Linked DNA regions of Homo sapiens. The protein of the gene in region 4 interacts with the protein of the main gene of each other region in a pairwise test. Each region holds a gene or a part of one and is shown on either strand. Other genes may lie near its edges.

Region 1 (3,500 bases), on a different chromosome or scaffold from region 4:
TTTACTTTTACTCAATAAAAGTTTTGCTTTTGCTAACTTACTCATTTCATTATTATGCTTAGAGAACTGTAAAATATGGGATCTTGCTATCCCTGTAACTCTCCTGTAATCCTTCTTAGTGAAATCTGCAGCTATCTAGTAAAGATTAACTTTTTTGTTGTTCTCAAATAACTGAAATGCCTGTGACTATACACAGCAAAGCATTTCAGTAGAGAGCCAAAAGATAAGAAATAGAACTGAAGTGGGGGTAGGGAGTCGTTCATTCAAGCCAAAATAAATTATTCTCATGTGTTTCTTGGTAATGTTCTTTCTAACTTAACAGGAAGGAAGGAAAGAAAACATGATCTAATTTAATTGGCACACTTGGCCTGACCTCAGGAGAGCGCATAGTATGTTATTATGTTGGCAATATGTGTTTATCCCAGCAGGGCCTTCTTGTCTGTCATCCTAGTGGACATTGGCTGGCAGGTCTGAGGTAGGACCTCTGTTTATGCTCTCTTGGGAGATATGACAACCTTAAGAAGCATTGCTGGGATTTTGTTTCTGTAGATAACATTGTTAACAGTTTGTTGCTATTCTCTTTGGGATTTCTGACTGTTAAGATTGATGTTTCTGAAAAAGCAGTGTTGATAATACATGCTGGAGATAAACAGAGCAAAGATACCTGGGCAAGCTGCCTTTCCCCTTTGCCCAGCCCTGGCTTTGGTTCTCCCCATTGGTCATGTTCATGGCTCTCCTGCCCAGAAACTCTTTTGTAACACATAACCTGACTATTCCAAAAATGGACAGAAGGTTTCTTCTGAGCAGGAGGACATAAAAGGAGAAATCAGTTTTTGCTTTACTGTACCAGTTGGATTACTTCAAGTTGATGAATTCTAGTATTCATAGTCAGTTGTACTGAAAATTGGATGCATATCTAACATGTAATACCAACCTGGGTTTCTTTTCTCCCCTGCTTCTTAAAATACTTGACTATCCATTTTGTACCTTGTTAATGGATCATATCAGAAATGAATTTCACAATTAGGTGAGGGAACAGACTTCGGGATTTGATATATTATCTTTCATTTTGAAAAGTTGATAAAAATATTTTATAAAATATTTAAGAATTTAAAATCAAGGAAGTCACCTTTGATTCCTCTCGTTATTAGTCAGAAATTCATCTGAGAAGAGCCTAATCTCTAAGCCAAAGTGACCTGCAGATCCCCTAGCTAGTAAATGATAGAGCCAGAATTATAACCCAGATGGCCTGACACCAGAGCCAGTTTTCTTAACCACTAAACTGTGCTTTCTCTCACCTTCCCTGTTCTAGTAGCATGTCGTCCACTCAAGAAATAACAGGTCAGTTCATGGTCATTGGTGACCAGAAAGAGTGGATGAAGGGATATAAAACTGTATGAAGGACCTGGAGATGTTATGTAAATGTCTGACATTGGGAGAAAAGGCCCCTAGAGCATCATTTGTGGCTGGGAATCTGAGTAAAGAGTGGAGATTGGGGCATTCTGTGAGGGTTTGTCACATGTTAGCACATTGTGACTTAGGCAAGTCAGAAACTATGCAGCCACCCAAAATTTCCCTGAATTTTGTCCATGCTGCTTTATAATAAGGTTATTTAGTTGTTTTTTTGTTTTGTTTTGTTTTTGCTTTTTTGAGACGGAGTCTTGCTCTGTTGCCCAGGCTGGAGTGCGGTGGCGCGATCTCAGCTCACTGCAAGCTTCGCCTCCCAGGTTCACGCCATTCTCCTGCCTCAGCCTCCCAAGTAGCTGGGACTACAGGTGCTCCCCACCACGCCTGGCTAATTTTTTGTATTTTTTAGTAGAGACAGAGTTTCACTGTGTTAGCCAGGATGGTCTCGATCTCCTGACCTTGTGATCCTCCCACCTCGGCCTCCCAAAGTGCTGGGTTACAGGCGTGAGCCACCGTGCCCGGCCAAGGTTATTTAGTTCTTAACTTTTTATCTTGGACAATTTTAAACATATATAAAGTAAACAGGATTGTATTAAAGAACCCTGCATATGCCTGTCACCCACCTTCAGTAGTTATCAATATTCTGTCATGCAAATAATAGTGTATTTGATAGTCAATAAATTAAATTCCTAGATGGTCTTTCTAATGAACCAGTCTTACTATGAAACTTTACTTCTTTGTGATTGGTTCACTTAGTTATGAGATTGTATTCCATTTCTAGAGCCTGACACAGCAGAACTCTAAATGTGGAATTATCATAATATAGTTCTTAATGCTTATTTGGTCCAGTTTCTCAATATGATAAGTAACAACTTTTAAGTGAAGATATGGAGGATATTTTCTAATTCTGCAATGTTCACTGAAGGAAAATACTTACCTTTTAAAAATTTTGTCTCTCCTGGTTTTCATTTTGAACCAAGATGAGTTTTCCATTTTTCACATTGCTTTTGTTCCTTTCAGATACATGAACATTTGAAATTGTTTTTAACCCACATTTTTAATCTTTTCTTACAAGTGAGCCTCTCTGTTCCTGATTTCTTTCATTTTAGTAAAATTTTCAGACTTCCTTCTAGAAAGGAGCCTCTAAATGGTTTCAGTTAAAGATACTTTGGCATGTTAGAGATTAGAAAGAAACATGTTATCAATTCAGACTATATGTAGATTTCTGCTGCTTCCTAAAAACCAACATTATGACCTTTAATTGTCTCACCAGCCCAACTGCCACAAGTGATTTTGGAGATGGTATATTCAAAGCTAGGCACAAAAATCAACATATTCTTCATAAAATGCTATGTTGTAGAACCAGGTGAGTTGTGGAGAGACAGTTACTAATAATTAATTCTTGATTTTAGATGCTGGGCAGTAATTTAACTCATTGTAGTGTCACATTTCTATGTCAATAACATGGACAATTTGTTTCTTTATGAGCTCCTACAGTTTGTATGTAGCCATCAAATGAAATAATGTATGCAGGCATTTTTCAAACTGTATATTGTTATATAAATCTAAGGAGTTATGAACAGCCCATATTTCTGTTGGAGGTACTCAGGACATAAAGCTACAGGGCATCTTGCTTCGTGAGAATTCAAAGTTCACTAATGTATTTGTATTTATTTCTCCTCATGACATCAGAGTAGAGTAACTCAGGATGTGAACATGGGTGATTATACCCAGGTTTTATGTGAAGAAACTAAAACTTACTGACAGTTGTGTCTTGTTTGGGTTGCACAGAATCAGAGATAGAATTGGAATTCAAATCTCTTAATTTGACACAGACAGCTTCCCTAAAATTCCCTATGTATTACTTACAAAAGACAATCAGTTATTTGCAGGTCTGTTTGAGGTTCAGTTCTGGATCTCTAGTACAATAATGGAAACTAGGCAATGTTGGGCCAGACTTGCTGAAACAAGAGTGAATTGTAGAACTTAAAAGCACAGGTTTCTGATTTCCGAGAAAGGGGCAAGTTGCAAATTTGTTTTGTCACCTCAGAGGGTTTCATGTCTCTCCAGGCTTGGGAAAAGTGCTGCTACCA
Region 2 (4,085 bases), on a different chromosome or scaffold from region 4:
ACTGTAACCTCTAACTCCTGGACTCAAGTAGTCCTCTCTCTCGGCTTCCCAAAGCACTGGGATTACAGGTGTGAACCTGTCAAAATCAGTGGCTCATTTATAGAGCTTGATACAGCTGTAATCGAGAAGCAATGCTTTTGCTCTGAGAAACTCCAAGCCAAATCAATCAAACAAACACCTTAGCCTTAACAAGCTTAACAAGAACACTGCCCCACCATGTGGTTCAGTAGGGAATATCTTGTGTGTGGAAACTACATTATCCTAACCCTTTCTCCCACAAATAAAGCGAGTTACACAGGAGAAGTCAGTACCACTGGCGATAAATTAAATTAATAGATATTGCCACCAGAGACTAGCCCTCTAGAGTGGAATATACAGGCATTTCTAAGAGCCAAGGTAGCTCACCTTGTAATGCACAGAGCAAAGCCACAATTACAGCGCTCCACCTACAGCCCACCCGAGACTGCAGCCTTCTAAAGGGAGAAGACAGGTGACAATGATTAGACATCAAGCCCTTGTTAAAGAAAACCAGTTTATTCTAAAAAGCTCTAAATGCCCTGTGCTTGGTCCCTGGTCAGGGAGAGGTCTCAAGAGGTTACTACCTGCACAGGGGCTGAAGGTACAGGGGGAAAGTCAGGTTTCAGTTGGTTGAGTCCTACCTTATCTGTTTGTTAGGCTTTTTCTAGAAAGTCTCGCTCTGTTACCCAGACTGGAGTGCAGTGGTGCGACCTCGGCTCACTGCAACCTCCACCTCCAGGTTCAAGCAGGTCTCCTGCCTCATCCTCCTGAGTAGCTGGGATTACAGGCACACACCACCATGCCCAGCTAATAATTTTTTTATTTTTAGTAGAGATGGGGTTTTGCCATGTTGGCCAGGCTGGTCTTGAATTCCTGACCTCAGGCAGTCCGCCGACCTCAGGCCTCTCAAAGTGCTGGGATTACAGGCATGAGCCACCAGACCCGGCCTGTGTTAGGCATTTATAAGGAGATGGCAGTCCAGCTCCTGGTGATAAGAAAATGTAGACTCCCAAGATTCATGTTTTAACTTTCTTCATAAGTTAAGCAGGAGTCATTTGCCTCTGTCATGAATTCCAAGACTACAAAGTTTTAAGAGATGCTGGGATAGCAAATGAGGCTTGAATTCTGTGTTGACAAGCCCACACACCTCATTTCATTTAGTATCCAAGAGATAAACAAACACCACCTCTTCTACTCCAGGACTGGCATCTCTGGACTTTTCTGCCATAATCCCAAATCAGGCCAACTCTCCTTCCTCTAGGATTCGCGTGGTGGGATGCCAGGCAGTGACACCCTTAGAGCAGGAAGTCTGACTGTAGACCCAGCTACACCCCAACCAGTGAGGGTCTGCATTGGGCACTTGGGCCTCCTCGTGAGGCGGGGGTCCAGGGTTCTGGTGCAATGCCCAAGGCAGGGCCACTTCTCAGCCCTAGCTCTGGGCCAGCACAGTGCCCCGGTTTGGCTGCACCAACTCACAGGCTCTTAGCTGGGGTTCTGGCAGGTGGGGCTCGGCTAGAAACAGATTAGACAGTGTTGCTAATTCTTCAGCAAAGTCCTGGAATACATAGAAAGATGAGGGAAAAGGCAGCATGTAATAATTCTCAATGGCTCATCCTTTGTCACTAAAGACCACAACCTGGCTGGCTATATTATTTTTTCTCAACTGCCCTCCACACTGAAATGGACATGAAACCTTGTCTGTTTGTTAGTACTCTGGGAGGCTGAAGTTATGGCAGGGAGCGAACTCTGATGGAGGCACAGGCTTGACCAGTTTTTGAGTACTACTGAGTGCATCTACTTCATCTTGAAATTATTATTCCCGTTAAAATCCAGGTTATTCTAATTTTAAAAACCCATATAATGGGCTGTGCTGCTTTCCAACTAACTGCCTGCCTTTCGTCCGTCTTCCCACTAACACAGTCCCTCATATAATAACTACTCAAATCGGGACAATTTCAGGGTGGCCCTGAAGACTCTTGACAAAAATCCACTTAGTTTGGCCCCATCACTTGCTTCCTTTCAGGACAGATGGGATATGTAACACCTGTTCTCTCTCCACCTAAAAGACAGGAGACTCCTTACCCCTGGCCACTGGGCCTGGTGGAGGCTGCCCAGGCAGGCCTCTATCTCCATCCGTCCCATCAGACCCTTCTCCACCAGCTCCCGTAGCAAGAATAGCAGCAAGTCCCACTGCAAAACACACCGAGGTCAGGGTTGCTAGGAGGACGACAGAGTGACCCTGATGACAGAGATTGAGATCTCAAAGGGCAGAGCTGCTGGGAAGAGACTTGAGATGGATAAATGGAGCCCATTTCTGTGTGGAACAGGAAGGGGAAATAAAGGATGCAGAGCAGCTCATAGTTTGGGGCAAGGGTGGTGGATGTTCAGAGTGTGACTGCAGAGGGCTTCTTGTTCCGTCTGACTCACCTCCCTTGGCCTTGTGTCTGCCAGAAGCCCCACATTTCTTGGGCTCAGCAGCAGCTGCAGCGGAACCGGCCCCTGAAAGTCTTCCTTCCACAAGGAAAGCAGCATGTGCAGAAGCCTTCGAGCCTGCCCTCTCTCCAGCCTGTACTGTGCCGGGGGCCCTAGGATAGGAATTTGATCTGCAACTGTGGAAAGAGGAAAGCCAAGCTTTAAAAGATGGGGGCAGGCCGGGTGCGGTGACTCACACCTATAATCCCAACACTTCGGGAGGCTGAGGTGGGCAGATCAGGGGTTCGAGACCAGTCTGGCCAACATAGTGAAACCCCATCTCTATTAAAAATACCAAAATTAGCCAGGCGTGGTGGAAGGCACCTGTAGTCCCAGCTACTTGGCCGAGGCAGAATTGCTTGAACCCGGGAGGCAGAGGTTGCAGTTAGCTAAGATCGTGCCACTGCACTCCAGCCTGGGCAACAGAACAAGATTCCGTCTCAAAAAAAAAAAAAAAAAAAAAAAAAGGGACAGAAGAGGGCTCTGTTTCTAATCTTGCTTGTACCCAACCCTGAGATTTGGGGGATCAGGCAAGAGAGGGATTTGATGGAAAGCAACCATACCGAGGAGGGAAGCTAACTCCACAGAGCACTTTGCCAGATGCTGCTCAGCAGGTGGGCACAGGAACTGCGGTTGGGGTGGGGGGGAAAGAGAGACCATAGGTATCACCATGCTTACTGCTGCGAGAACTGGCCCTGAGCCAGTGTGGCTCTGGTTATCAGGTCTCACACAAGGACACAGAAAAAAGCCCCCCGGTGGCAGATGCCACAGCTCACCTGGCGGCACCGCAGCGTCTGGCCCAGCTGGCCTAGGAGCTGTTCCAGATGCTCTGGGGAGACTCCCTCGTCAGGGTCCCGTGGCCCCACGGCCAAGGAGAGCACGTCCTGTGAAGAGCAGGGGGAGATATCACCTTGCGCTGGGGGCCAGGATGCCACAGAGAATTTGGCTTGGGACAGGGATCAGCCAGTGGAGAGAGGCAGAAGAATGGGCCCCGGGATATGGTGAGTAAAGCCAAGTTGCCCCTAGACCTGGGACTTGGGCAGGATAATACAGCCAGGGGAAGCAACCATGTGGACAACAAAAGAGGGAACAGATGGAGGTCAGCTGAGGGACAGTAGGCTGCCATAGCATGGGAAACGTCACTCAACTTGGGACCAAACTGTAGCTAACCAACTCCCATAGGGCATCTTATTCTTGAAGCATGTAAGGAAACCGGCCTATCAGATACCGTCTTAGTATCGTCTGTCTCTCAAGCCTCTCTGTTCATCTTCTCTGGAGAGCTGAGCTTTCAATACAGAAATCCTCTGCATATTGACAACCAGTATCAAATGGCCACTAAGCCTCTTCCTCTCCCTCCTACATAATCTCCATTTTTTAGTCATTGTACCTTATAGTCCCTATTCCAATCTCTATTCCTAGATCATTACCCTAGACCAGAACCAGACAGTAAATATTTTAGGCTTTGCAGGCCATAAAGTCTGTGTCCCAACTATGCAACTCTGCTGTTCAGTAGTTGCACAAAAGCAGCCATAGGCAGCTCGTACACAAATTAATATGGCTGCATTCCACTAAAACTTCACTCACAAAACAAGGGG
Region 3 (3,500 bases), on a different chromosome or scaffold from region 4:
GACGCCATCTCACGCCTGCTGGAGGTGCGTGTGATCCCAGAGCAGGGTCTGGCCTGGCACCCCCCTCCTCTCGCTCAGACACCAGGGTCGTGCGTGTGTGTGTACACTCGTACATGCACGTAAGTCCGGTTACCCCTGGGGGTTGGTGTGGCCCTGCCGTCTCCCCACCATGTGAACTGCCTACTGGCCTGGGGTGGCTGTGGCTCCCCAGGGCCCCGCACCACTCAGTGGGTGCTTCCAGACAGTGACAGGAGGGCCGTCATCAGAGACCCTCAGGTCTCAGTACACAGCCTCCACTCTGAGCACGTGTGTTTTCCCTGACCTGGCTTTGAGCAGCTCAGGCACCTGTTGAGGAGTCAGCCCTTAGAGACGACAGTGTTTTACTCCCTCTGCCAGACCGCCTGCCCCACCTAACGTGAGCAGCTCTGGGTTCTTGCCCTGAGAGCTTGGGGTTGACATTGAGGCCTCTCTTACCCCTCACTGTGCCATCCCTGGTGGGCCTGGACTGAACAAGGCAGAGATGCCTGGGAGGGAGAAAGGAGACTGCGATTGGGTGGTGGCTGGGTTGGTGTGTAAGGCCTGAGGCAGTGTCCTGCGCGTGGTGCTACCTTTTGGGGCCATCCCGGAGTCTCTGTGGGACTGAGCAGGCAGAGGAGTGTGGACCTTGGACCTAGGCCACGGGGGGACCTGCACTCAGCTCCCCACTGTTGGCTGTGTGGCCTTAGAGGTTATCTTTTTTTTTTTATTTTGAGATGGAGTCTCGCTCTGTCGCCCAGGCTGGAGTGTAGTGGCGCGATCTCCGCTCACTGCAAGCTCCGTCTCCCGGGTTCACACCATTCTCCTGCCTCAGCCTCTCGAGTAGCTGGGACTACAGGTGCCCACCACCACGCCCAGCTAATTTTTTGTATTTTTAGTGGAGACGGGGTTTTACCGTGTTAGCCAGGATGGTCTCGATCTCCTGACCTCGTGATCCACCTGCCTCGGCCTCCCAAAGTGCTGGGATTACAGGCGTGAGCCACCGTGCCTGGCCTAGTTATCTAAGCATCTTAGAGCTTCTGGTTCCTTGTGCAGAAAGTGGAAATGCTGATTCCTGCCTTACAGGGAAGTTGTGAGGCTTAAATGAGTCATTTATTTCAGTGACTTAGCATGGGGCACAGGGTTTGGGGGAGTACGGGAGTCATGGTTTGTGATGGAGGTGACCCACAAAGCACAGACAGCAGTCCCTTTTTCTCTCTAGCGATGCTCATTGTCTTAAAGTTGACGCGGTCTCATTGGTGCTAACAGAGTCACTCAGCTTTGTCATGACCAGTGTCAGCTTGCTCTGTTGTTTTCTTGTATTTTTTACTGGTCTGTGTGTTTATGTTTAAGGTGAGTTTCTTGTACACAGAATGTAGATGTAGTTGGGTCTTCTTGTTATCCAGTCTAATGGGTTTTTTTAATTGGAATTTTTAGCCCATTTTAATTTACTGTTACTATTGATGTGGCTGGGTTTAAGTCTGTCATCTTGCTCTTTGTTTTCTCTTTGTCCCTTTGATTTTTTTTCCTTTCTTTCTTTTCTTTTTTTAAAAAACAAGTGTTTTTAGTATTCTGTCTACTGTGAGTTGAGCTGTACATCTCTGTGTTGTGTTTCAGGGGTTGCTGGGGGCTATAATCATCTGACTTGAAATTACATCACCCTGTTGACACCAGAAGAGCCTTACGGCAGTGTGTGTCCATTCATGCCTTTCCTGTCCTGTTACTGTCACACATTTTATTTTTACGTATGACATAAACACCCAGTATGGTTTTTTTTTTTTTTTTTTTTTTTTTTTTGAGAGATGGAGTCTCCCTCAGTCACCCAGGCTGGAGAGCGGTGGTGCGATCTCGGTTCACTGCAACCTCTGCCTCTGAGTTCAGGTGATTCTCCTGTCTCAGCCTCCCAAGTAGCTGGGATTAGAGGCACCCACCATCATGCCCGGCTAAATTTTTTTTGTATTTTTAGTAGAGACGGGGTTTCACTGTGTTGGCCAGGCTAGTCTCAAACTCCTGACCTCAGGTGATCCGCCCGCCTTGGCCTTGCAAAGTGCTGGGATTACAGGCGTGAGCCACCGTGCCCGGCCCTGTTTTTGTTTTAAATAGTCAACTTTGTTTTAAGGAAATTAAGAAAGAAGGAAAAAGTCTTCTATTTTTGCCATTTATAACATTCTTCATTCTTTCAGTATAATCTGGTCTGGTTATTATTTCTCTTCAGCCTGAAGAATTTTTAATATTTCTTGTAATGCAGAGCTGCCAGTCACAAATCCCCTCAGCTTTTGTTTATCTGAAAACATCTTGGTGCCTTTATTTTGCAAAGGGCATTTTCTCTGGATATGCATTTCTAGGTTGACAGCTGCTTCTTTTTTTTTTTTTTTTTTTTAATTCAGCAGTTAAACTGATGTCACTTTAAAAGATCTCATTACTAGGCTGGGCGCAGCGGCTCACGCCTGTCATCCCAGCACTTTGGGAGGCTGAGGCAGGTGGATAACCTGAGGTCAGGAGTTCGAGACCAGCCTGGCAAATATGGTGAAACCCCGTCTCTACTAAAATATAAAAATGAGCTGAGCATGGTGGCGGGTGCCTGTAATCCCAGCTACTCAGGAGGCTGAGGCAGGAGAATCGCTTCAACCCGGGAGGTGGAGGCTGCACTGAGCTGAGATCGCGCCACTGCACTGCAGCCTGGGCGACATGAGTGAGACTCTGCCTCAAAAAAAAAAAAAAAAAAGATATTACTTTGTTTTCTGGCCTGTATTGTTTCTGCTTAGAAGTTGGTGTTGATTCTTATCCTTATAAACTGTGTATAATGGCACCCTTTGATTCTCTGCCTTAAGATTTTGCATTTAATTTTGGCTTCAGCAATTTGACCATTGTGGTTTTTGCTTTCGTCCTGCTTGGGGCTCTTTAAACTTCTGGGTCTGTGGGATGATCATTTTTGTCAAATTTAATACATTTCAAGCCATTGCTTCTATAAATTACTTTTTCTGCATGATCTCTCCCTTTCCTTCTGGAACTTTATTGTCCCATACGTTGCTGAAGCTCTGTTTGTTTTTTCTCAGTCTTTATCTTTGCAATTCATTTTGGATGATTTCTGTTGGCTTGTCTTCAAGTTCACTACTCTTTTCTTTCTTGTTTTTAATATACTGAAGCCCATCAAATGAATTTTTTTTTAATTTCTTGAGACAGGGTCTTGCTCTGTTGCCCAGGCTGGAGTGCAGTGGCACAGTCATGGCTCACTGCAGCCCGAACCTCCCAGGCTCAAACAATCATCCTGCTTCATTCAGCCTCTTGAGTTGCCAAGACTACTGGCGTGGGCCACGTGCCGGCTACTTTTTTTTTTTTTTTTTTTTTTTTTTTGTAGAGATGGGGTCTCCCTATGTCACCCAGGCAGGTCTCAAACTCCTGGGCTCAAGCAGTCCTCTCACCTTGGCCTCCTAAAGTGCTGGGATTACAGGCATGAGCCACCACACCCGGCCCCATCTAATGAA
Region 4 (3,500 bases):
CATGATTGAAGCTGCTGGCGTGGAAGCTGTGCCATGTCATGTAAAGCATGCAGTGGGAAAGCAGTGGGGTGGGGGCGTCTTTGTATTACATCATCTGTTGTTGCCGTTTCAAAAATCCAGAGGCCTTTCTACACTTCAGTTGGATGTTGATTTCAAAATGACCGATGTTTCTTTCTGACTCATGAAGGCTGCTGTCTTTGGAATCTGACATTAGAGGGAAGCGAAACTTTACAATGTGTGGGGCAGCCTGGTGTGGTGGCTCAGGTCTGTAATCCAGCACTTTGGGAGGCCAAGGATGGCGGATCACTCGAGCCCTGGAGTTTGAGACCAGCCTGGGCAGCATGATGAGACCCCATCTCTACAAAAATTAGCTGGACACGGTGGTGCACACCTGTGGTCCCACTACTCAGGAGGCTGAGGTGGGAGGATCACTTGAGCCTAGGAGGTCGAGACTGCAGTGAGCTATGATCATGCCACTGAACTCCAGCCTGGGAGACAGAGTGAGACCCCGTCTCAAAACAGAAAAAAAGTCACCAGGCATGGTGGCACATGCCTGTAATTGCATCACTTTGGGAAGCTGAGGCAGGCAGATCACTTGAGTTCAGGAGTTCGAAACCAGCCGGGACAACAAGCAAAACCCCATCTCTATTTTTTCAAAATTTGTGTATATAAAATTTTTGTATGAAAGCTGTGTGGTACATGTTTAGCTGTTTTATGTTTCACTTTCTGGACATGAGTGTGATCCTCCCTGCTCTTGCAGTGCCATCTAAGCTGTCATCAGTTTTCCTGGGCGAGTGATGCATCTCCCCAGCTGGTCTGTCTGAGCCCCTGGCCAGCCAAGGGGCTGCCCTTGACTCTCCCGGCACCCGCCCGTCTCTGCATAGCCACCCCCACCACTTTAACTGGATGGTTTTGTATTGAGGTCAGGCTGGACATCAGCTTTCTATGGGCAGGGACCGTGTCCTCTTATTGGCTGAGTAATTGGGTCCATAGCGTAGGTAAGTCACCTCCTTTAAGAGACTTTGATAAGCAAAATAGTGAATATATTCTTTTTATTTATTTACTTATTATTTTTTATTTTTGAGGCAGGATCTCCCTCTGTCGTCCAGGCTGGAGTGCAGTGATGTGATCTTGGCTCATTGCAGCCTCGACCTCCCCGGGCTTAGGTAATCCTCCTACCTCAGCCTCCCAATTAACTGCGACGACAGGCACATGCCACCGTACCTGGTTAATTTTTATATTTTTAGTAGAGGTGAGGTTTTGCTGTGTTTGCCCAGGCTGGTCTTGAACTCATGGGCTGAAGTGATCCACCCACTTTGGCCTCTGCGCCCGGCCTATTTTTTTTTTTTTTTTTTTTTTTTGAGACGAAATTTCACTCTTGTTGCCTAGGCTGGAGTGCAATGGCATGCTATCAGCTCACTGCAACCTCTGCCTTGCAGGTTGAAGCGATTCTCCTGCCTCAGCCTCCCAAGTAGCTGGCATTACAGGCATGCGCCAACAAGCCCGGCTAGTTTTTTTGTATTTTTAGTAGAGACGGGATTTCTCCATGTGGTCAGGCTGGTCTCGAACTCCTGACCTCAGGTGATCCTCCCGCCTCTGCCTCCCAAAGTGCTGGGATTACAGGCCTGAGCCACTGTGCCCGGCCTAATTTTGTATTTTTAGTAGAGAAGGGGTTTATTCGTGTTGGTCAGGCTGATCTTGAACTCCCGACCGCAGGGGATCCACCCGCCTCATCCACCCAAACTGCTGGGACTACAGGCATGAGCCACCAAGCCCGGCCGTTTTTAGCGTTTAAAAGGATTGCAGCTTGGCTGGTGGCAGTCCCTCTGTCCTGGCACAGACGCAGGGGGAGACCCTGTGTCTTCAGACAGCATGGACTTCAGGACCCTACTGAGAGATGGAATCAAGAGCTCTCCGGGGTTCTTTGAGTGGGGAGTTGTATCGGAAACCACCATCAGCGCGCCTGAGCTCGCCTCGCATTGTTCTTCTGTAGTGCGGGGGGCCACTGCCACCACCGTGAGGACACGTTGGGGTCTGGGGAGGGATTGTTATGGCTGTGGGTGCACCTTGCACGTCTTGCCGACCTAGCTTTGCACGCTGATCTTCCCTCCGTGCCCGCTTACATTGTTAACTGGGTTTCTGCCCTCCCTCCTCTCCTTCGTATTTCTGTGTCTCATTGACAACTGTTCTGTAGTCGCTTTGTTGACAGTTGCCAAACTGCTTTCCAAAAACATTTCCACTGCAATCCCGGTTTTTGGTGCCAGCCGCAGTGGTGTGAGTGCGCTCGCTTTATTATAGTCTTGCCAGCACTGGGCGTCTCTGTGTATTGTAAACACATGCGATCATCACTCTTATCTCTCCATCCCCCCCACAATTAAAGATGTGCCGTGCTATCTCTGCTCAGGTTACCTTGGCCTTGGGATGAGTTGGCTGGAGGCTCAGGCAGCGCGAGGGACAGGAGGAGGGCGAGGCGCTGCCTGGTGGATTAGCGGGGAGCCATGGCACGGGCAGGACTCAGGAGAGGAGGCCGGCAGCTCACAGCAGACCGCGGGGCTCAGCTGGCCTGCCCTGTGCTTGGGGTTTGTTTTTGAGCGTTGAAATGAGGTCCTTAAACCTTAGTCCGTGCATTGAGAGCAAGGCAGCTGCCTTGAGCCTTACTTCCTTTTCCTCTTTGTCGCCTAGTATGACGCCGTGCCCATCCAGTCCAGCGTGGTGTTATGTTCCTGCCCATCCCCATCAATGGTGAGGACCCAGACTGAGTCCAGCACGCCCCCTGGCATTCCTGGTGGCAGCAGGCAGGGCCCCGCCATGGACGGCACTGCAGCCGAGCCTCGGCCCGGCGCCGGCTCCCTGCAGCATGCCCAGCCTCCGCCGCAGCCTCGGAAGAAGCGGCCTGAGGACTTCAAGTTTGGGAAAATCCTTGGGGAAGGCTCTTTTTCCACGGTGAGTATTTGCTGCTGCTGTGTGTCAAACGTACGTGATTTCCTTGGGGAGGCTCACCTTCCTCGGGGCTTGCCGGAGACTCCAAGCAAGGCTGGTGTCCTTCCAGGCAGGAGGTCTCAGGCCCCTTGAGGGGTGTCACCTGTTGTGAAGGCCACTTGAGTCTTTGGGGGCTGGGTACCCCCCAAGCAGATGACGTGATGAGTGTGGCTAAATATTTAACCTGGTTTTGTAGATGAGAACGTTAGACACATCTCTTGATGGTCTGCGGAGGTTTTTTCTGATGTAGTTAATTTCATTTTAACCTGGCATCAGCAAGTTACATTCTGTGTCCTTGTGTCTCACTGGCAGGGCCCTGGGAAGCTGTTCTTTTTCTTAGATTGAAAGTTAGTATCTCTCCAGGGTTTTTGGGGACATTTATTGACCTCTTCTTATTTCTCTGTTTTGTTTTTTTGAATACATAAAACAGTACGCTCTGGACATTTGCTGGAGACACAGCCTCCAGAGTCTTGTGTTCCGAGTTTCACAAACAGGAGTATTGTCGCAGTACTGTCAAGTCA

What was found. Proteins that work in one complex are often made in the same cells at the same time.
Region 1: the proteins of PDPK1 (region 4) and BLMH interact in a two-hybrid assay, tested with the Homo sapiens proteins (one large-scale study listed by BioGRID and IntAct).
Region 2: the proteins of PDPK1 (region 4) and CDAN1 interact in a two-hybrid assay, tested with the Homo sapiens proteins (one large-scale study listed by IntAct).
Region 3: the proteins of PDPK1 (region 4) and SBF1 interact in a two-hybrid assay, tested with the Homo sapiens proteins (one large-scale study listed by BioGRID and IntAct).

Annotation. Positions count from the first base shown.
Region 1 is NC_000017.11:30,260,945-30,264,444, reverse strand, and holds part of BLMH (bleomycin hydrolase), read left to right. Parts: intron 1-3,500. UniProt on the Homo sapiens protein: The normal physiological role of BLM hydrolase is unknown, but it catalyzes the inactivation of the antitumor drug BLM (a glycopeptide) by hydrolyzing the carboxamide bond of its B-aminoalaninamide moiety thus protecting normal and malignant cells from BLM toxicity.
Region 2 is NC_000015.10:42,723,044-42,727,128, forward strand, and holds the end of CDAN1 (codanin-1), read right to left. Parts: intron 3,375-4,085; coding exon 3,267-3,374; intron 3,118-3,266; coding exon 3,054-3,117; intron 2,628-3,053; coding exon 2,446-2,627; intron 2,209-2,445; coding exon 2,101-2,208; intron 1,574-2,100; coding exon 1,448-1,573; 3' UTR 501-1,447; downstream 1-500. UniProt on the Homo sapiens protein: May act as a negative regulator of ASF1 in chromatin assembly.
Region 3 is NC_000022.11:50,451,036-50,454,535, reverse strand, and holds part of SBF1 (myotubularin-related protein 5), read left to right. Parts: coding exon 1-24; intron 25-3,500. UniProt on the Homo sapiens protein: Acts as an adapter for the phosphatase MTMR2 to regulate MTMR2 catalytic activity and subcellular location. Promotes the exchange of GDP to GTP, converting inactive GDP-bound Rab proteins into their active GTP-bound form.
Region 4 is NC_000016.10:2,555,021-2,558,520, forward strand, and holds part of PDPK1 (3-phosphoinositide-dependent protein kinase 1), read left to right. Parts: intron 1-2,682; coding exon 2,683-2,943; intron 2,944-2,959; exon of another isoform or gene 2,960-3,500. UniProt on the Homo sapiens protein: Serine/threonine kinase which acts as a master kinase, phosphorylating and activating a subgroup of the AGC family of protein kinases.